Linked DNA regions of Homo sapiens. The protein of the gene in region 3 interacts with the protein of the main gene of each other region in a pairwise test. Each region holds a gene or a part of one and is shown on either strand. Other genes may lie near its edges.

The links.
Region 1: the proteins of CD300E (region 3) and CTXN3 interact in binary tests that used the Homo sapiens proteins (3 or more experiments, as listed by UniProt).
Region 2: the proteins of CD300E (region 3) and STX8 interact in binary tests that used the Homo sapiens proteins (3 or more experiments, as listed by UniProt).

Annotation. Positions count from the first base shown.
Region 1 is NC_000005.10:127,652,082-127,659,194, reverse strand, and holds the end of CTXN3 (cortexin-3), read right to left. Parts: intron 6,943-7,113; exon of another isoform or gene 6,834-6,942; intron 6,146-6,833; exon of another isoform or gene 6,004-6,145; intron 5,879-6,003; 5' UTR 5,772-5,878; intron 1,773-5,771; 5' UTR 1,674-1,772; coding exon 1,428-1,673; 3' UTR 565-1,427; downstream 1-564.
Region 2 is NC_000017.11:9,565,767-9,572,879, reverse strand, and holds part of STX8 (syntaxin-8), read left to right. Parts: intron 1-2,942; exon of another isoform or gene 2,943-3,324; coding exon of another isoform or gene 3,325-3,382; intron 3,383-4,409; coding exon 4,410-4,509; intron 4,510-7,113. UniProt on the Homo sapiens protein: Vesicle trafficking protein that functions in the early secretory pathway, possibly by mediating retrograde transport from cis-Golgi membranes to the ER.
Region 3 is NC_000017.11:74,620,717-74,627,642, reverse strand, and holds the start of CD300E (CMRF35-like molecule 2 precursor), read left to right. Parts: upstream 1-3,904; 5' UTR 3,905-4,021; coding exon 4,022-4,061; intron 4,062-6,926. UniProt on the Homo sapiens protein: Probably acts as an activating receptor.

The DNA.
Region 1 (7,113 bases), on a different chromosome or scaffold from region 3:
GAACTGGCCCTGTGTGTTTTCTGTCTTTCTAGTGCTAGCAATTCCAGGCTCAAAGCAGGAGCTCCATAAATACATGAGTGGGTTTGAATAGACTCTAACAAAAATACAAAAAAAAATTAATGAGGACACACATGACACAGTACATTTGAAAGAAAAAGAAAATCTTATAATTAATAGGTTAAAGAAGTGTGCTTTTTTTAATCAAAAAAGGTAATGACTAGCTGAGGAGAAAACTAGAAGACATAGATTATAAATACAGCCTAACGGGGTTGGTTTAGGCTGAGTTATCTGCAGGGTTGGTTTAGACACAAGCTTTTCCTTCCAACAAAAGTTGGAATAAGAGGTATTCACATCTCCCTTTTTGGTGGTCTTAAAAACTATCGGTTTTGTCTGTGCAGGACAATTTATAGGAGCTCTTCTTGAAATGGGAGAGGGATGAATTAGATGAGCTTTCATGCTGTTAACTCTTTTCTCCTCTCTTGGAAAAATGTTAAGCCTCAGCACTTAATACCAGGTAGCACCCTCAGTGCATTAGTTCTGGTGAAATAAGAGAGGAAGCATTTCTGTTTCTTGAAAAGTTTTATTTGGTGACTATATACAATCATAAATACACATTCCTCTGAAGACTATAAAAGTCTTCTCCTCTAAACAATTAACTTTTCATTGAAAAAAAACTTTAAGCTGCACTTGCAACCTATTTTTTAAATCATTTGTGTAAAGTGTAAATTCAAGTAATGTATAGCTACCTCTACACATGTTATTAATATGAATACATATAATGTAGTTGGCTTGGTAAATAGTTTTTAAAACTTTGTAGCCTTTGAATTAAGTTTTACTTGAAAAACAAAACGCTATTCTCACTCACATTTACCAAGGACAGAATCATCTCTTTTAAGCTTTTCCATTGCTTCCCAAAGCTCCCTGCTTTGGGAGAAAACAAGAAACTACTTTGGGTCCATTCAGCACAATCTTCCTCATTCTGCTCAGGACCCAGATAGGTGCCCATGAAATAAAACAAATATAGACATAATTAGAGCAAGGAAATCTCTTCCTGGCCTTGTCACCAGATTCATATGAGATCCTTTCTAGTCTTTTATTCTTTAGTCAGATCAGGTGGTGTTTTGTTTGATGGCAAATCTATGTCAGTATTAACGCTCTTGGTTTCACAATCACACAATTTTAAGAGTACTCATTCATTGAGCAAACATAAAAATTTAAACCTTCTTATGTTGGATTAGTTATATAAGTGTCCATTTCCAACATCCTCAAATGTCTTTAACCCAACTGCATATTTATGGAATAATGGATTATGGTCCTGGGACCAAATATTGTTTAAATTTGATTTGTTGAGAACACTAAATAAAGGGAATCCTCACCAAGACACAAAGCACTTCATCTCCTCAGGAGGAGATCCCACACCATCCCTCCTAAGCAAGGGCATGGTCGAACTGCCCTTTCTCCAGGCCTTCAAGTCCATCAGCCCAGGTAGAGGTTGGCATGCTTCGATATGGATCCAAAAGAATCCGGAAGCACCGGACAATGAGAATGCCCAAGAAAATAAACAACAGAATCACAAAAACAAATGTCATTTTCTGCTCCAGGGACATGCTAGAATCTGCTGATTCGTTCCCAAGGGGCACTAGGGATGAGGGGATGGGCTGTCCTCCATCCATGGTCCAGGGAAGCCAGAGCACAGGATATCCTGGTTTTCTTTTCTTCCATCATCAATCTGCGGAGGTCATGGTGGCTGCACTCTGGAGAGGCTGAGTTATCTGCAGGGAAAAAGGAAGGGAAAGGAATACCTATAAAATAGCAGCCTTATTTTTTTAGGTTCACAGTCATATTTTTCAGAGAGAAAAAGAAATCTGTAAACCAGCTTTCTTTTTCACCAGAGATGCTCAATTCTGTATAATTATCGGGAAAGATATTTTACTCTTGCATGAAATTACCAGATTGTTCTCAGAAGAGCCACCTGGGGCCAGGAGGGATGGGCAGGGAATACGACTATAATATAGAAGATGAGAAATGTGCACAGTAATATTGACCTCAGGGTGTACTGTCAACTTGACATCTGAACCCAGCCTCCCCTGCCAAGTCTCCTCCTGCTCTGCTCCACTAATATTACTCTCACATTGTTCTTACGATAGCGCCATTGAGGGAGCCTCAGCTATGTGTCAGCACAGTGGCTAAACTTGAAACATGTTAGCCACTTTACTGCAAGCTTCACGAAAGCAGGGATCTCTTTAGCCCCAGTGCAAGGAAACTGAGGCTAGAAAAGGTGCTTAAAATAGAAACCTTCTCCAGGAGCATTGGGTTCTGGGCTCCGGGCTCCACTCTACTGCAAAACGGGTGTGGGACCTTGGAGAGGTCACTAAGCTGTAAAAATGCAAGTAGCAATGCCTGCATCTTTCATGGTGCTGTAATAAGGATGAAGAGCTGTGAAAACCCTTTGAAAAGTATACAAAAAAGAAAAACAAACAAAGCCAAGTGTTGCTTCACCTAAGACACAACTAAGGGAGCTATGCTGCTTCTCCTTTCCTTTCTACTGCCTGAGCCAAGGGAGAACGGAGGTATCTCAGTCTCCCAAACTATCAAGTTACTGCTGCTTTTTCTTTTTTCCTCAGAAAACAAAGACCAGGTTCAATACTTGACCCTGGGAAGCACCTAGAGAATTAAGCCAAGAGAAAGGAATTGATCGATGCATATTTTCAAAAGGACAGTTTTCCTTAGAGTGGCTTCCTACCATTTAAGACTATTCAGTAGAGAGGAAGAGAAGGAAAAGGACAAGCTAACACTATTTTAATTTTACTGGTGGAAAAACTTAGATATGTAGATATTACTGTATAAATATACAAGTGTATATTACCGTATAAATATACAAGTATATACATGACAAGTATACACAGAGGTCGTTAAAAGCTTCAGATACTGAACGAAATCTACTTAAATCACATCGTAAATAAAAGTATATACATTAGACACTACTACTATATAGAAAATTAAATGATATTTATTATGAATTTATTTATAATAAAAATTACAAAGCACAGTAATTAGCTACGGAAATTAACACGGACACAAAATAAATTTTGCTCAATGAAAATAACCAAATAAAAATAGAATATGTGACCTAAAGCATCAATACAATGTTCCTTCAGTTAACTTATAATCATTGCCTTCAAGTACAGCATTAGTAATCATAGCATAACAGTTTGCATTATATTGACACTTCAAAGTTTGTAAAATTACAGTTTAAAAAACAATTTATAAGGGGGATCCCAGCCAGGATCTGGGAGGAAGGAGTTACCAGTCGGGTAATGCATCATTTTTGCAGCTCTATCACTTTGAATTTTTTTAAAGGCTATAACAGTTGCAAAACTCATTTATAATTCATGTTTGTTTGGAAGTAAGATTGGGATAAAAATTTGACCGCATTTTAAAAAAATAAGCTCTTTAGGAATTTAGAGGATATTAATGCACTGGGTTTTGTTTTGGTTTGCTTGTTTCTAAGCACCCTCCTAGCCTTGGGTATTAATTCCTTGTGGGCCAGGAAGGGAGGGGCAGGAAGGGAGGCCAGAGCCTCCAATGCAGGTCTCCTCAGCACATCAGACCAGGGCCATCTGTGTCCACCAAAAATATTCAAACTATACTTAATCATATGAAATATAAAATTCTCCAAGGGCTGGGCCAAAGGAAAGCCCGCTGATGACAGAGGAGCAGATGCTGAGGCCATCCCTGACATACTCCTTGCTTTTTCATATCCTACTGAGGATCCTCTCACTTTGATTCCTGCTCTCCTTGCAGGATTATCAGAATCTCATTCTATGCCCTTTTTCCATCCAGCCCAAATGAGGCCAGAGTCCTGTTCTTTGTCCATTCTCAACAAAGCCGAGACAGGTATGCATTTTCAGAAAGTCTTTTTTTTTATTTTGAGACGGAGTTTCGCTCTTGTTGCCCAAGGTGGAGTGCAATGGTGCGATCTCAGCTCACCACAACCTCCGCCTCCCAGGTTCAAGTGATTCTCCTGCCTCAGCCTCCCTAGTAGCTGGGATTACAGGCATGCACCACCACGCCCAGCTAATTTTGTATTTTTAGTAGAGACGGGGTTTCTCCATGTTGGTCAGGCTGGTCTTGAACTCCTGACCTCAGGTGATCCACCCACCTCAGCCTCCCAAAGTGCTGGGATTACAGGCATGAGCCACCATGCCTGGCCATTTTCAGAAAGTTCTTTAGGAAAACACCATATAATCCAAAAAGGAAATATAAGAAGAGAAAAGACCATTAACTGTATAACTGATGTAAGGATTTCTGGATCTGTGAAATCCAAAAATTCAGGTAAGAACTAGATAGAGAACCTTTTGAGTCCTTGAGAATGACCTCCTCAGCACAAGCAGGCTGACTAGGACGGTGATACCTTGCTCAGTCCCTCCCTTCCCACCGGGGATCTCCACTTGATGAGCAACATTGTGACCCCAGGAGTAGTCTTCCCCAGCCTTCTCTTCCATACAGGGCAAATGCCAAATCCTTCTCTCCTGGATCAACTCTCATACTTTCTAGGCTTCACCCACAACTCAGGATTTACAGCGAGCAAACCATTCATTTGGGGGCTGCAGTGGTAGGCAACCATTCCAGAAATTCCAGCAAATAACTTATTCATCCTGATTCAGATTATCTGCCATATCTGCCTCTTCAGTCACCCTAGGAATGACTCTGGGACTCAGATTCTGCACGAGGATGCCAAGTATTAGAATGATTTTTAAAATCAGTTTTAATTTGAAGTTTTACCATCCTCTACTGATTAAAAGGCAAGGTACAAAGGAAAGGTTAACCCTCTTTGCATTGAGAAGCCTCCTAAAATATAAATATGTGTATACTCCAATGTCTTCATCACCAAACCTTTCCTGATATACCAAATTATGAGCAAATAGAGGTGAAAGAATTTTTAAAACTCTGTAGCACATTGGGAGTTGTAATCCTCTCCTCTCCCAGCACACTGTGGTGCCCAAGTTCCTATAAAAATAACTGCTTTTGGTCAAAGTATCAACGTCTCCTACTAAATTGCAATATTTTACCTAGGAAAGTGGCACATTAATGTGCTAGCAGGAATTTGTGAGGACCGTTCCCACCTGAAGGAGGGGAAAGTGTGGTAAGTAGAAAGGCGATTGAAGGAAGACCTAGCTGGGAATGAGGGACTCCTGGACAGGACAGGAAGACAGGCATGGTGGTGTGAACAGGGGGCCCACTGGAGAGCCCTAGGGGAGGGATGAGGGATGGTGGGTAGAGACAATCAGGAGGTGGTTGCTAAAGGGATAAAGAGATCCAGAAACCAATGCTGACTAATTCACAATTTTGCCCAGGACTGATTGAAATCCCTGGAAGAGTCTGCTTGATTTTAAACCTGCAATCAGCTAATCAATAATTTACCGATTTAGAAAGCTCCAACAGCATGTATAAGTTGAAGGAAGCATCAGCTATTATAAGGTGGAGAAAAAGAAATAAATGTAATCATTTTGCTACCACAATACAAAAATATCTCAAGACATGTAAATTTTTAAATGTCTGTCTCGCAGTAAAATGTCCCTTTTTGGTAAAAATGATTCTTAGAAAATGTGCAAGTTTGCTTTTAACTGAATAATGACATCTTTCTTTTAGATGACCAGGGAAATCTGTGCAAGTCTATTATTTCAAAGGATTTTGATACCACCATCAGAAGCCTTCATAATAACACATGGCAGCTATTTTAAGTATAAAGAAGGACCACAGTTACTCACAGCCATATTTTAATCCTGATAGGCTTTCCTCATCACGCAGTACATCTGTGTCTTCCCTTTGTCAGGTCCATTTGTGGGTGCTCAGGAAATAGAGTCTAATTTTAATACTGAAAAATTAAAGAAAACCTTAATTAAAAGATACCCTTTTCAAAAGTCATATAATACATTCCCTTGCTCGAGTCAAGCTCCCTTGTGATACTGACAAAAACAGAAGACACCCATAATTACTTACGAAGCCCAGCAGGCGTAGTCATTGCAGCCAGGGTCATTCACACTCTTAGTCACTTGCTTTAGTTTTAGTAATTTTCAAAGTGGCGTTCCTCATCCCTTGCCCATGCTTCCTACACACTGCATCTCGATTCATCTTTTTAAGCCCAGATCTCACCACTCTTCCCCTCAGAAAACCTTTGCACCCCAGTGTCCACAGCCCATTAACCCCCTTGTGGGCCTGATGCCCAGATGTTTTCCGGACCACAGATTAGGACCTATGCTGACAATGGAATTTTTAAGATCTGAGTTTTATTTTTATAAGTTTAGAAAGGAGTCAACACCAAATCACATTTAGTTCTCAGTAAAATGGCCAATGTGTTGATCAGAATAAACTTCCGTGTAACTGAGTCTGTGGACACCTGTGGAGAATGTCCTCATTTTGTCTGTTTTTCAGCTTGATCCAATACCTGCTGTGCTCTAACACCTCCAGGTTTCCTACCTCATAATACTTGCCTCCTCTCCTTCTTTCCATCTGTGGAGAGGAGGGGAGGCAAGCACTATGAGGCAAGCATCTTTCCTCTCCTTCTTTCCATCTCTCCCTCCCTTAGGGTTCACACCAAATACCCACTTCTCGGTGGGGCCTTCTTTGTTTCCCTTCACCAAGGATGGGGTGTTTTTTACTCCATCTCCAGAGACATCACCTGTACTCGGTGGCAGCACTGATTACAGTGCGAGTCTTGACAGTGTTTATCTCCTCCTTATTACACAATAAGCTCCTTGAGGAATTATTTGCTGTTCTGGGATCATTGCCTTTTTAAATATAAGTTAAATCAAATCTTCAACCCCTTACAGTCCAGGGAACTGAATTCAAAACCCGAGGTGCCAGCTAACTGATGCAGAGAGGAAAAACAAAAGCACAAGTCATCAAGCCGGACTGAGGTGCTGGACCATCACATTTGAAGTAAGTCTTGTTTGAAAGAAAGACAGCTAGTTCAAGTCACAATGACACTTTAAAACCCACAGATCTTGTAATTTGAAGAGCCATAAGTTATTTGGCTCATTAAATTTTCCTTGGCCTCCGTGTTGATGGGTGGAATCTGAAATATAAAAATCAGCCAGAAATTGAAAGTTA
Region 2 (7,113 bases), about 65 Mb from region 3:
AAAGCATTGAGACTTTTTCTGTTATACTTCATTAGTTTGATGAAGTGGCTTTCTCATTGGACTATTGAGAGTGAAACAGTGAGACACTCAGCTGTGCTCCCAAAGCACAAAATGGGTCGCTGATTAGGGGGGTAGAAAGGAGTATGGGAAGGGACTTGAAAAACCTATAAAAGGCCAGGTGTGGTGGCTCACACCTGTAATCCTAGCACTTTGGGAGGCTGAGGCAGGCGGATCATAAGGTCAGGAGTTCGAGACCAGCCTGACCAACATGGTGAAACCCCGTCTCTACTAAAAACGCAAAAATTAGCTGGGCATGTTGGTGTGTACCTGTAATCCCAGCTACTCAGGAGGCTGAGGCAGGAGAATCACTTGAACCCAGGAGGTGGAGGTTGCAGTGAGCCGAGATTGCGCCACTGCACTTCAGCCTGGGCGACAGAGCGAGACTCCATGTCAAAACAAAACAAAACAAACAAACAAAAACAACCTATAAAAACAGATTCAACTACAGCTTTACCTTTGTGTTGCTAAAATCATAGGTCATTGGCACCTCCCTCAGTGTCTAGCAATGGAATATAGCAGTTACTATTTTAATGGCCTATCAAAGCAAGTGGTAAGCTCGCTGTTTAACAGAAGGAGCCCATGATCACTGTCTCTGAACTGGCTCTTTGCTAATGTTAATTAGCTTTACCTCCAGGGTAACTAATTTGTTGATGATGTACCATTTCCAGAAAAATTACAGTTAAACCTTAATAGTTTTATATCCTGATTGGACTTTTTATGTTGGTAGCATGGTCTTCTTTGTGTTGAATTGCTTTTTAAAAACTTTATTTTGGAAGGTAAAAGATACACAAACTAGAATAGTATAATGGGCCCCTTTCATACTCACCACCCAATTTCTGTGATTATCAATATTCTGCCATTCTTGTTTCATCTCTACCCTCCACACCTTTTTTTTTTTTAATTTTGAGATGGAGTCTTGCTCCGTCGCCCAGGCTGGAGTGCAGTGGCATGATCTTGGCTCACTGCAACCTCTGCCTCCTGAGTTCAAGTGATTCTCCTATCTCAGCCTCCCGAGTAGCTGGGATTACAAGCACCCGCCACCATGCCCGGCTAATTTTTGTATTTTTAGTAGAGATGGGGTTTTGCCATGTTGGCCAGGCTGGTCTTGAACTCCTGACCTCAGGTGATCACCCGTCTTGGCCTCCCAAAGTGCTGGGATTACAGGTGTGAGCCACTACGCCTATGCCCGGCCCAGATTACTTTTTTTTTTTTTTTTTTTTGAGACAAAGTCTTGCTCTTGTCCCCCAGGCTGGAGTGCGATGGCACAATCTCGGCAAACTGCAACCTCTGCCTCCCGGGTTCCAGCGATTCTCCTGCCTCAGCCACCCCCCGACCCAATTACTTTTTCTAAACTAGTACTTCAGGCACCTGTGTGCTTGATAGTGTAATGAGGTTGTCTATTGCCCCAGGCCAAGGGTTCCCGCCCGGACTTTACCGCAGATTGGAATCACTTGGAGAGCTTTTAAAGCTCCCCACGCACGCCCAGGACAAACCCCATACCAGTTGAGTCAGAATGCTGAGGTTGGGACCAGGCATTGTTATTTTTTTAAAGATTCCCCAGTGATTCCAACTTGTTTCAGAACTATTGCTCTTTAGGGCTAAAATAACAACACAAGGACTGGAGTCAGGACACCTGGGAGTTTGTGCTAGCTGTGTGCATTTCTCATAACCTCTTTAGGGCCACTCTCTGTGTGTAAAAGTGTTCTCTATGGCTCTGAAATTCTCCTTTAAGTCTAACCTTGTTAGACTGGTGTTCAAGGCTCTGCAGAAACTAGCTTCTACTCATCTCTACCATTTTATACTTAACAGGCTTCCAGGGCCACCACGCAGCCAAATGTGCCGGGCACGTTTCCTTCCATTCATCTTTGCTCGCCCTGTCTTTCACTAAGTCTAGAATGTGCTCCTCCCTCCTGTCTGAATAAGAGACCTGCTTTAACTTCGTGGTCATCCAGATGTAACCTCATGGACCCTCTCCATCTGAGTGCCTTGGTCAGCAGTAATCTCTTCCACCTCTGAACTCCAGACGTACTTACCACTTAGATCCCACATTTGGCAGGAGGCAAAACTTACCATATGTGGATGATTTTTATATGTATGGTCTGGACCCCAGAGCCAGACCTAGGCTCCTCTTTTCATGATAATATGGAGGAAAAAAAAGTGAAATGTGGCAAAGTTTGGACCAGGACCCAATTTTCCTTATTAGCCTCCTGTTTTCTTAATTCTGTGTTTTCTTGTATCACTGCTATTTTTCCCTACACACACAAATACATGAATATATATATATGAATGATATACATGTGACATATACGAATATATAGTATATATGATATAAACGATAGGTATGTGATATATATGAATATATGTATCAGTGATATATATGATATATGTGAATGTGTGTGATATATATATGATATATACATGAATGGTGCTGCTTTACAGTATAGTGGTTAGTGGTTCAGGATCCTCTCTCAGGATCCTTATGAAGTTTACAGTGTAAAGCTCTTAGTATAGGACCTGGCTCAGGTCAGGTACTCAGCTGTTACTATTGCTATAATTATTCTAGTAAGATTCCTAAGGGAATTGATGGGCGCATTTTCCTTCATTTAAAAAAAAACACTTATCAAGTTCCCTCAGTGTTCAAATGATATGTGGGAATTGAAAGGTTTTAAAAAATATATTGTTTACTCAAGCAAAAATTAGGACATTAGGGGCAACAGGAGTTTCTGATATTTTGTGATGGACTGGTCCTGGAAGATAATGCTGGTCATGTTAGTCCACAGAGTCTCTGCTTTTTAGGAGCAGACTGTCTGATAGGAGAAATGAAATGTGTATGCATGCTTAAGTATTTTCGTTTTTTTGTTCGTTTGTTTTTTTGAGATGGAGTCTCACAGTGTCGCCGGGCTGGAGTGCAATGGTGTGATCTCAGCTCACTGCAACCTTCGCCTCCTGGGTTCAAGCGATTCTCCTGCCTCAGCCTCCCAAGTAGCTGGGATTACAGGCACCCGCCACCATGCCTGGCTAATTTTTTGTATTTTTAGTTGAGACGGGGTTTCACTATGTTGGCCAGGCTGGTCTCGAACTTCTGACCTCATGATCTGCCCGCCTCGGCCTCCCAAAGTGCTGGGATTACAAGCGTGAGCCACCGCATCCGGTCTGCTTAAGTATTTTCTATATGATAGAAAGTAAAAATGCTCTGAGAGAAGCAAAACATAAGGGGCTATTGGGAGTTCACCGTGAACCCTTCAAAGCCTCCAACGCTGCTGAATGACAACTAGAAGCTTATTAAATGTTTTGAGAGAATTCTGGCAAGCTCAGATGTCAGGTGGGTGTGTGGCCTTTGTCCCCGGAGCATTTGGTTTTAGGCTAGACAATACTTGCTGTTCCTGCACCCTAGAGCCGCCCCCAGGCATCTGCAAGCCCAGCTTCTTCACCTTGCCTCGGTGTCACCTGATCCTAAGTAGCAGCTCCTTATCACTCTCTGTCCCTTTATCCTGCTGCGTTTTTCTTCTTAGCACCTATCAACACCTGACATACTATGTATTTAATTGTTTTATGACTTTCTTTCCTTAAAATATGAGCTCCTTGAAAGAGGGACTGTGTTCATTCTGTTTACTGCCGTCTTCTCCAGTGCCCAGAACAGTGCCCAGTGCAGCGGAGACCCCCCACATGCTTTCTCATTGGCAGAACAGCACAGTTGTTAAGAGCCCCGGCTCTGGGGCCAGACGGCCTTGGTTTGCAGCAGGCAGAACCACTTGGGCAAGTCACTCTAACTCTTTGTGCCTCCTTTTCTCATGTGTGAGTTGGAGATGGTAATGGTACCCACTTCATAGCGTTCCTGTTTTGATTAAGTGAGTTATTACTAACGAAGCCTTCAAAATAGTGCCTGGCACATGGTAAATAACGCTCAGTCCATGTTGCTTTTACTGGTCATGTTATTATTCTTCCCCTCTGTTTGAATTCTTTGGCTAGAATGAAAATGTCAAACTTAGACAATGCAAAAATTTCTTTTAAAGAACCTTAAGGCCAGGTGCAGGGGCTCACGCCTGTAATCCCAGCACTTTGGGAGGCCGAGGGGGCGGATCACGAGGTCAGGAGATCGAGACCATCTTGGCTAACACGGTGAAACCTCATCTCTACTAAAAATACAAAAAATTAGCCAGGCATGATAGCGGGCGCCTGTAGTCCCAGCTACTGGGGAGGCTGAGGCAGGAGAATGGTGCGAACCCAGGAGGCAGAGCTTGCAGTGAGCTGAGATCGTGCCACTGCACTCCAGCCTGGGCGACAGAGCGAGACTCCGTCTCAAAAAAAAAGAACCTTAAACATTTTCTCTTTTTACGACTTTGGTGCAGGTTCTCCACATACGATTCTACTTGTCAAATTGCCCAAGAAATTGCTGAGAAAATTCAACAACGAAATCAATATGAAAGAAAAGGTGAAAAGGCACCAAAGGTAATACCATGAAGGAATTAGTACCCAATGATTTGTTTGAGTTTTGAGGCCTGAAAACCCTCCTATCTTTCTTTGAGGCTGTCTGTGCACATGTGTGTATGATGATCTATCTGCTTACATATGTTGAATTGACATAACACCCAACCAGTTAGTAGTGATGTAATCATTGAGACTAAATGAGGCATAACACATTTAAGTTCTCCTGTTTTACTTTAAATATTTCTAACAATTTTATAGTCTAGTTCAGGGGTTAGTAAACTTCCTACAGATAATAAATCTTTTAGTCTTTGCAGGCCAAGAGATAATGTCTTCAAGTCTTTGAGTTTCCATTCTCACCACAAGAATAGTTATAGTTTTTACATTTTACATTAAAAATGTAAAAACAGGCCAGGCATAGTGGCTCACACCTGTAATCCCAGCACTTTGGGAGGCTGAGGCGGGCAGATTGCTTGAGGTCAAGAATTCGAGACCAGCCTGGGCAACATGGGGAAACCCCATCTCTACTAAAAATATAAAACCTAGCCAGGCGTGGTGGCACACACCTGTAGTCCAGCTACTCAGGAGGCTGAGGCAGGAGAATTGCTTGAACCTGGGAGGTGGAGGCTGCAGTGAGCTAAGATCGTGCCACTGCACTCCCGCCTGGGCAACAGAGTGAGACCCTGTCTCAAAAAAGAAAAAAATGTAAAAACCATCTTTAGTTTTGGGCTGTATAAAAACAGTGGTGGGATTTGGCTAAGAAATAGATTTTTGTGAAATCACAAGTTTATACTTGTGACTATGATTGAAAATAGAAGCCTCTGATTCAAATCTAACACCACACCTTTCTTCCTTATTTTCCACATTCCAAATTTGTATTTTCTTTCTCTCACACTGAGAATCCTAGTTTCCAAAAGCATCAGTATGTTTTTACTCATTTGGTCTATTTTACAGTTTACAGAAAATGGTTTCAAAATTACTATAAGGTACCACGACAAACACTGAGTTCAAAATTTGAGTCTTTTTAAGTGTAGACTAATCTACTAAGAATGCTGAGGTTATTATGTTCCAAAGTTATTAGAATTATTTTTTAACTTTCAAGTTCAGGGGTACATATGTGGGTTTGTTGTATAGGTAAGCTTGTGTTATGGGGATTTGTTGTACACGTTATTTTGTCACCCAGGTATGAAGCCTAGCACTTACTATTTTTCCTAATCCTCTTCCTCCTTCCAGCTTCCTCCCTCTGCTAGGCCCCAGTGTGTGTCATGTCCCCCTATGTATCCATATGTTCTCACCAGTTAGCTCTCTCTTATATCAACAGAGTGAACAAACAACCTACAGAATGTGAGAACATGCGGTATTTGGTTTTCTGTTCCTGCATTAGTTTGCTAAGGATAATGGCCTTCAGCTCCATTCATGTTCCTGCAAAGGACATGATCTCGATCTTTTTTATGGCGGCATAATATTCCATAGTGTATATGTACCACATTTTCTCTGTCTGGTCTACCATTGGTGGGCATCAGGTTGATTCTATGTCTTTTGTTATTGTGAATAGTGCTGCAGTGAACATACACATGCATGTGTCTCTTTTTTTCTCTTTTTTTTTCGAGACGGAGTTTTGCTCTTGTTGCCCAGGCTGGAGTGCAGTGGTGCAATCTCGGCTCACTGCATCCTCTGCCTCCCAGGTTCAAGCCATTCTCCTGCCCCAGCCTCCAGAGTAGCTGGGATTACAAGTGCCTGCCACCATGCCTGGCTAATTTTTGTATTTTTAGTAGAGATGGGGTTTCGCCATGTTGGCCAGGCTTGTCTCGAACACCTGACCTCAGGTGATCCACCCACCTCGGCCTCCCGAAGTGCTGAGATTACAGGTGTGAGCCACCCCACCTGGCCACATGCATGTGTCTTTATGGAAGAATGATTTCTATTCCTTCGGGGATATACCCAATAACGGGATTGCTGAATCAAATAGTATTTCTGTTTTTAGTACGTTGAGGAATTGCCACACCGTCTTCCACAATGACTGAACTGATTTACACTCCCACTAACAGTGTATAAGTGTTCCTTTTGCTCTGCAACCTCCCGAGCATCTGTTATTTTTTGACTTTTTAGTAATAACCATGCTGAGTGGTGTGAGATGGTATCTCATTGTGGTTTCGATTTGCACCTCTCTAATGATCAGTGATGTTGAGCTTTTTTTCCTGTTTTTTTTGGCAGCATGCCTGTCTTCCTTTGAAAAGTGTCTATTCGTGTCCTTTGTCTGCTTTTTAATGGGGTGGATTTTTCTTGTAAATTTGCTTAAGTTCCTTATAGATACTGGCTATTAGATCTTTGTCAGATGGATAGCTTGCAAATATTTTCTCACAATGTGTAGGTTGTTTGTTCACTCTGTGGATAGTTTCCTTTTCTGTGCAGAAGCTCTTTAGTTGATTAGATCCTATTTGTCAATTTTTGCTTTTGTTGCAATTGCTTTTGATGTCTTTGTCCTGAAATCTTTGCCTGTTCTTATGTCCAGAATAGTATTGCCTAGGTTGTCTTCCAGGGTTTTTATAGATTTAGGTTTTACAGTTAAGTCTTTAATCCATCTGAAGTTAATTTTTGCATGTGGTGTAAGGAAGGAGTTCAATTTCT
Region 3 (6,926 bases):
CCCTCAAGAAGACTAGCCCAAGAGTGCTCTGCTTTCAGGATTCTGCTTCCAATTGCCAGTGGGAACGATTGCTGGTTGCAAGTGGGGAGGGGTCCATCGTCAACGCCAGAGAATGGCAAACTCCTTTTGCCAGGGCCAGCCAGTACAGATTTTAGGTTTTTTGGGCTCTGCGGTCTCTGTCACAACTACTCAACTTGGAATTGTTCCTATAAATTTTATAAAATTAATCAGGGAAGAAGGGAAGGGGAGAAATGAAAATAAACCAAGCTTGCAGCACATTTGGCATTAATCATGAGGTCAGCCTGCTCTCTGTCCTGCTTCTTCATATTTGCTGCCTATTCCCCCAGAATCACACAGACCCGGTTGTAAGACTATAGTCCCCCTTAATTGTACCATAGGTAACATCTTAAGCATTGTGAGACATTAAGTTTTCCATTTGAGATATTTTTACCAGGTCTTGTATACCAGTGAAACTACTGATGCCAGCTGGTCTAGAGGAATCCAAGAGAAGCTGATTCACCAAAGAAGGCTGTTTCCAGATCATGATGATTTCATCCATCCTACCTTGACCAATCAATGATCCCAATTTTCCAGTTACTTGCCCTCTACAATCCCCTTAAAAGTCCCAGCCCAGAACTTCTCAGGGAGATGGATTTGAGGGTCCCTCCCAACTCCTTGCTTGGTTACCCTGTGATCATTAAACTCTTTCTCTGCTGCAAACCCTGTTGTCTTGGTGTATTGGTTTGTTCCAGTGCAATGGGCATATGAACTCGTTGGTCCTGTAACAAACTCTGCTGTTGTAGCATGAAAGCTGCCATAGATAATACATAAATGAACATGTGTAGCTGTATTCCAGTAAAACTTATTTATGTACACTGAAATTTTAGTTTCAGACAATTTTCATGTGTCATGAATTAAAAAAAAAATTCCCACCATTAATAATGTGAAAATGATCATTAGCTCATGGGGTGTATAAAAACACAAGGTGAACTGGAGGTGTGGTTTTGGTGTGTGTTCATCTCTTCCATGGCCCTACAAGTCTCATCATTTGCCAACCTGTTTTATATTGACGTCCTTGTCCACACTCCCACACGATGGGAAGTTGTACTTTGGATCTCACACCCCTGTGTAGTGCAACTTAGGTGCTTGTTCTCATGGAAGGTAACTCCTTATAACTACAGGGAGTGGAGATGCCTTGATACTCCCATGAGCCCATCAATGGGGTCTCCCCTCATCCTGTTCCATGGGCGTAATGACCATTCATGGATCCTAGCTTTTGGCAGGGGGCTCTGCTCCCACTCCCTGTCTTGTGTAGACCTGAGACATTGTCTTCTGTCCCTGAGTGGCTATTTAAACAGCAGCCCCTCTCCTCCTAAGGCCCAAATTCATTTTGACTGGTCCCCATTAGCCTCTTGGTATCAGATCCTGCTCACAGACCTGGCTTTTAGTTCCCTTTACATTTCTAATACCTGGAATTTCCTTTTATTGGATTTGACTTCAGTTTGGAACCAGATGATAGCTTCTGTGTCAACTCGGTCTTACTAGGTGGTCGGAGTTTGGATTTTCTAATTGGATTATAATGAAATGTGCCTATATTAGACATGGTGAGTTTATAGTTTTTCAACCATCAACACATGCCTTTGCTTATTCCCATTTCTTTTATTTTATAAACAACTGTAGGGATAAGATTTTCAAAAAAGGAACCAGAAGAAAACATTATAAAAGCAGAACCAAGAAGGCTGAAGATTTGTTTGGTCCTCTTGGTGGAAAGAACTGAAGCCTGCAACTGTTGTCTCTGCTGAATAAATGGCACAAGGGTTGCTATGGTTTGAATGTTCCCTCAGAAACTCGTGTTGAAACTTAACTGTCAATGTAATGGCATTGGGATGTGAGGTCTTTAAGAGGTGATTAGGCCATGAGAGCTCAGTCCTCCGAGTGGATTAATGCTGTTATCTCCGGAGTGGGTTAGTTATTGTGAGAGTGGTTTCCTGAGAGGCTGAGTTCAGTCCCCTTTTTCTCTCTGTCTAGGAGGCTTGCCTGCTGTCTTGTCTTCTGCCATGGAATGACGCTTGTCAGATGCCACTACGATGCTCTTGGACTTCTCATCTTCAGAAAGCTAGGAAGGTGAACAAATTTGTTCTTTTTTATTATTATTATTTGAGACAGAGTTTCTCTCTGTCGCCCAGGCTGAAATGCAGTGGCGTGATCTTGGCTCACTGCAACTTTCGTCTCCTGGGTTCAAGCAATTCTCCCACCTCAGCCTCCTGAGTAGCTGGGACTACAGGCTCATACCACCATGCAGGGCTAATTTCTGTATTTTTGTTAGAGACAGGGTTTTGCTATGTTGGCCAGGCTGGTCTGAAACTCCTGACCTCAAGTGATCTACGTGCCTCGGCCTCCCAAAGTGCTAGGATTACAGGCATGAGCCACTGCACCTGCCAACTTTTGTTCTTTATAAATTAGCTAGCCTGTAGTATTCTGTTATAGTAGAAGAAAATGGACTAAGACACAATGTTGTGGCTACTGTCAGCTCTGCTCATTCTGGATCCCTCAAGTGTGTGGCTCATGTCACACATGGGACCAGGGTCCTGGTGTTTTATTGTTCCATCCAGGGCTCTATTCTATATATAATCTATCTATCTTTCTTTCTTTCTTTTTCTTTCTTTCTTTCATCTTTCTTTCTTTTTTTTTTAGATGGAGTCTCTCTCTGTTGCCAGGCTGGAGTGCAATGGTGTGATCTTGGCTCATTGCTTTGCAACCTCCACCTCCTGGGTTCAAGTGATTCTCCTGCCTTGGCCTCCCAAGTAGCTGGGATTACAGGCACGTGCCACCATGCCTGGCTATATAATACTTCATCAGATATGGTGGTACAGAAAAGATAAGAAGTTGTGCTCTTACAACAAAAGTTTGAAATATCAGATGATCCAGTAGAGTTCTAAAAGATAGTAAAGATTAGAGGCTGTGGGTATCAAAGATGGGTATCTCTGGGGAAAGAGAAGGAAAGAAATTATATTTTCAGATAGCTATGTCTTAGAGAAGAGTATCTTCTGATGTGCAAGTTGGATTAGAGAGAATGTATAGCTAGTGGAGGGACCAGATGAGAAGCTATTTCAATGGTCCAGGACTATTCTAAAGGTATTTAATATTAACTGGGCAGTTACTATGTTCCAGGCACTGTATCAAGCACTTTACTTACATTAACTCATTTATTTCCTGTGGCAACCCTTTGAGAAAGAATTGTCATGAGTACTCTATTTTACAGATGAGGAGACTGAGGAGGAGAGTGATTTGGCAACATGCCCAAGGTCAGATGATTAATAAATGATGGAGATGAGATTTGAGTTTGTGTGACTTCAGAATCTATGCTGTTGACCATGACCCATATACTGAACTAGGTTAACAGTGTATAACCAGGTGGAGCTTCCCTATAGGAAGTTAGAAAGTAGGATCTGGAGCCCAGGAGAGATATTGGGATATTGGGTTAGAGGAAGAGGTGTGAAGTCATCCGCATGGAGATAACGGTTGAGAAAGACATGGGGAGTGATCACCACAGCTCCTTAAGTAGAGGGTGTTTTATGATTCAAAAGTAGGCAGCCATAGAGAAGGGAAGCTCCTTAGATCGATGAAGTAATCCCAGATAGGAAGAAGAGTGAAAGAGGCAGGGAACAGAGTTTTCTCTGTTGGAGAGGTTTCGTAAACTGGGACTGACTTTCATGAAATTCCGAGTCATGAAATCTCAGGGGGTGACTCAAACATTACGTTCACATTAAATGAAGGCCAACAGATTTTCCTGTTTGTGCTTGGTCCATTCTCAGAAACGTCTCTTGCCACCCTTTCTCTTCTGCTAAGTAAGGCTTAAAATTAGGAAGCATTCTTTAAAAGGCAAAAGAGGAAATAGATGAGTGAGAACACAAAGGAAACTTGGACAAGTAGAAAGTGGATGACCCAGGCTCCGTTACATATACTTGGATTCCAGCTGGGACCTAGATTTGCTGAGGACGGAAGCCAAGGAGACAGGAACATGTGGCTGCTCCCAGCTCTACTCCTTCTCTGCCTCTCAGGTGAGTGGGGCTGTGGCTTTGGGGACTTGGTTTTGCAGGGGGCAGGACAGTAGGTAGAAGAGCTGTCCTGGGTTCAAACCAGAGGTGAAGTGTCCACAGAAAAGGGAAAGATACATCCGTTCATTCACCTGTGCATCCTTCTATACATTCAATCATTCATCCACGGATCCTACAAACACTTACTGAGCACCAGATATGTGCCAGGACTGTTCTGGGTGCTGTAATTAAGAGTAACTTCTGAACTGAGGGAGTCAACTAACTACAATACAATGTGGAAATTACTGTTGTAGAGACTCATTCATGTGGTGATGAGAGTATGCAACAGGAACCCCTCACTTTGCTCTTGGAAGGGTGGGAGATGTCACTGAGGCTTCATTGGAAGTCCATCCTGCAGGATGAATGAGTTGGCTGAGTGGGAAAGGAATAGCTTATGTGCAAGTGTGAGGACATTAAAGACCATGGAGAGTTCAAGAATTAACAATAGTTCTGTTTTGACGAAGCTTAGTGTAAAGGGGTTGGAATGGTTTGTGAGAAATAATTAATGGGCTGGGCGTGGTGGCTCACGCCTGTAATCCCATCACTTTGGGAGGCCAAGGTGGGTGGATCACCTGAGGTCAGGAGTTTGAGACCAGCCTGGCCAACATGGTGAAACCCTGTCTCTACTAAAAATACAAAAATTAGCTGGGCGTGGTGATGCATGCCTGTAGTCCCAGCTACTAGGGAGGCTGAGGCAGGAGGATCGCTTGAACTTGGGAGGCGGAGGTTGCAGTGAGCCGAGATTGCACCACTGCAGCAGTCTGGCCTGGGTGATAGAGTTGAGATCCTGTCTGAAAAAAAAAAATGCCATCCTCAACATCTACCTTAAATCCTTCCCGGAACAAGGTGTGGTGTAAACAAGTAAATGAAACTGTCCTGCAAAGGTTGGACTTCAGAAGAGAAACTCTTATTAATAGACATTCAAAATACAAAACTGCAGGAAAACACATTTGTCTCTGGGGAAATAAATTTAGGCTAAAAATTAGAGGACATTCTTCATGTTTGCAGAATGAATTTTATGGTTGAGTTCCCTCACAAAACATAGAAATTGCCCAATGTAATGACAAGATTCTTTCTAGAAGGGTGAGTGAAAATGACAGCGATTTAAAGGAAGAAGACCAGGTAGGTGACATGGACCCAAACTCGTGGGCTCAAGCAATCCTCCTCTCTTGACCTCCCAAAGCACTGGGATTACAGGCATGAGCCACTGCACTCAACCAATGTTTGCTCATTTTGTATTTGAATTTGCTTCCTTTTTCTTTGCCCTTTCCATCTCTCTTTCCACCCCTATCTCATTCCCCATCCTCAGACTCGCAATGTGACCTGCGCAGGTCCCTCTGAAAATCTTAACTGGGAAAGAGAGATGGAAAGGGCAATTCTAGCAGGGAGGGGAAATGACAAAGAGGAAGGAAGCAAATTCAAATACAAAATAAGCAAACGTTGGTTGAGTGAGGTGGCTCACACCTGTAATCCCAGTGCTTTGGGAGGTCAAAGCAGGAGGAATGCTTCAGCCCAGGAGTTTGAGATCAGCCTGGGCAACATAGCAAGACCCCATTTCTACAAAAAAAGAAAAGTAAAAAATTTAAAAAGAGCAAAACTAGAATTCTATTTATTACACATTTTTATAACCTATAAACACTTCCAAATAGATGATAGAATTTAACCCTCTGAGCAGTTTTGTGACCCAGGCAGGGCAAATAGCATTGACTCCACTTTATAAATAAGATGATGAAGGGAGATCTGATGACATAAGAACTAAGTAGACAAGCTGGAAATGAAGTCCAGATCTGTGTCCTCCACAGAGCTCTTTCCATTGGCCATGGAGGTGTCAAGAATAAGGCTAACCTAGTAATAGTGACAAAATAGCTGACCTCTCTGCCACATCATCTGGTATTTCCATTCTGAACTGATTGCTGTCCAATATTTAGTAGCTCCCATTAACCTCAAGCAACCAGCAAGCACATGTTTCAACAAATGCACCGACGCATTTATATAATTCCATCAATTATTTCCAGGAACATGCTGGATTTCCTTGAGAAATGCTAATCTTGCATTCAGGTAACACTCTAGCAGGACAGAGGAAAGTATCTTGGAATTAGCATAACCTTCTTTTTCCTTAACTTCAGGTGCCCAGAATTAGATCATGGGTCATGGAACACTCTCTCATCACTGGTCCATTCAAGACCCTCTTTTATTTTAATTATATGTAACTTAACAAACATCTGTGAGCTCACTGGCCAATCCATGAACTAGAATGTTATCAACAGCATGGATCTACCCACTCCTTCCCAATCCAGTCCTGGTTCTTCTTTCAAACAACAGTAATTTGGTGTCATCTGCCAATACTTTGCATGAAAATTTGCTTTTGTTATATTTTTACATTAAGTAGAAAATTGGGCTAAGCAACCATAAGCCATGCTCTACATCTGAGGGTCTGTGATTTAATCAGCCACACCCCTTATCTCATCTTTTTCTTTCCTCTTCTTCTTCTTCTTTTTTTTTCGAGAGGGAGTCTGGCTCTGTCACCCAGGCTGGAGTGCAGTGGGGTGATCTTGGCTCACTGCAACCTCCGCCAATCAGGTTCAAGCAATTCTCGTGCCTCGGCCTCCCGAGTAGCTGGGGTTACAGGCGTATGCCACCACACCTGGCTAATTTTTGTATTTTTAGTAGAGACAAGATTTCACCATGTTAGCCAGGCTGGTCTCACCTCCAGTGATCCGCTCACCTTGGCCTTTATCTTTTTCTTTAAGCTCACCTATCCAGGCTCTCCCCTCTGCAAGTTGCCTTGCTTTACCTCCATTTTGGAGGTGGCTTTGCTTACTGGGCTTT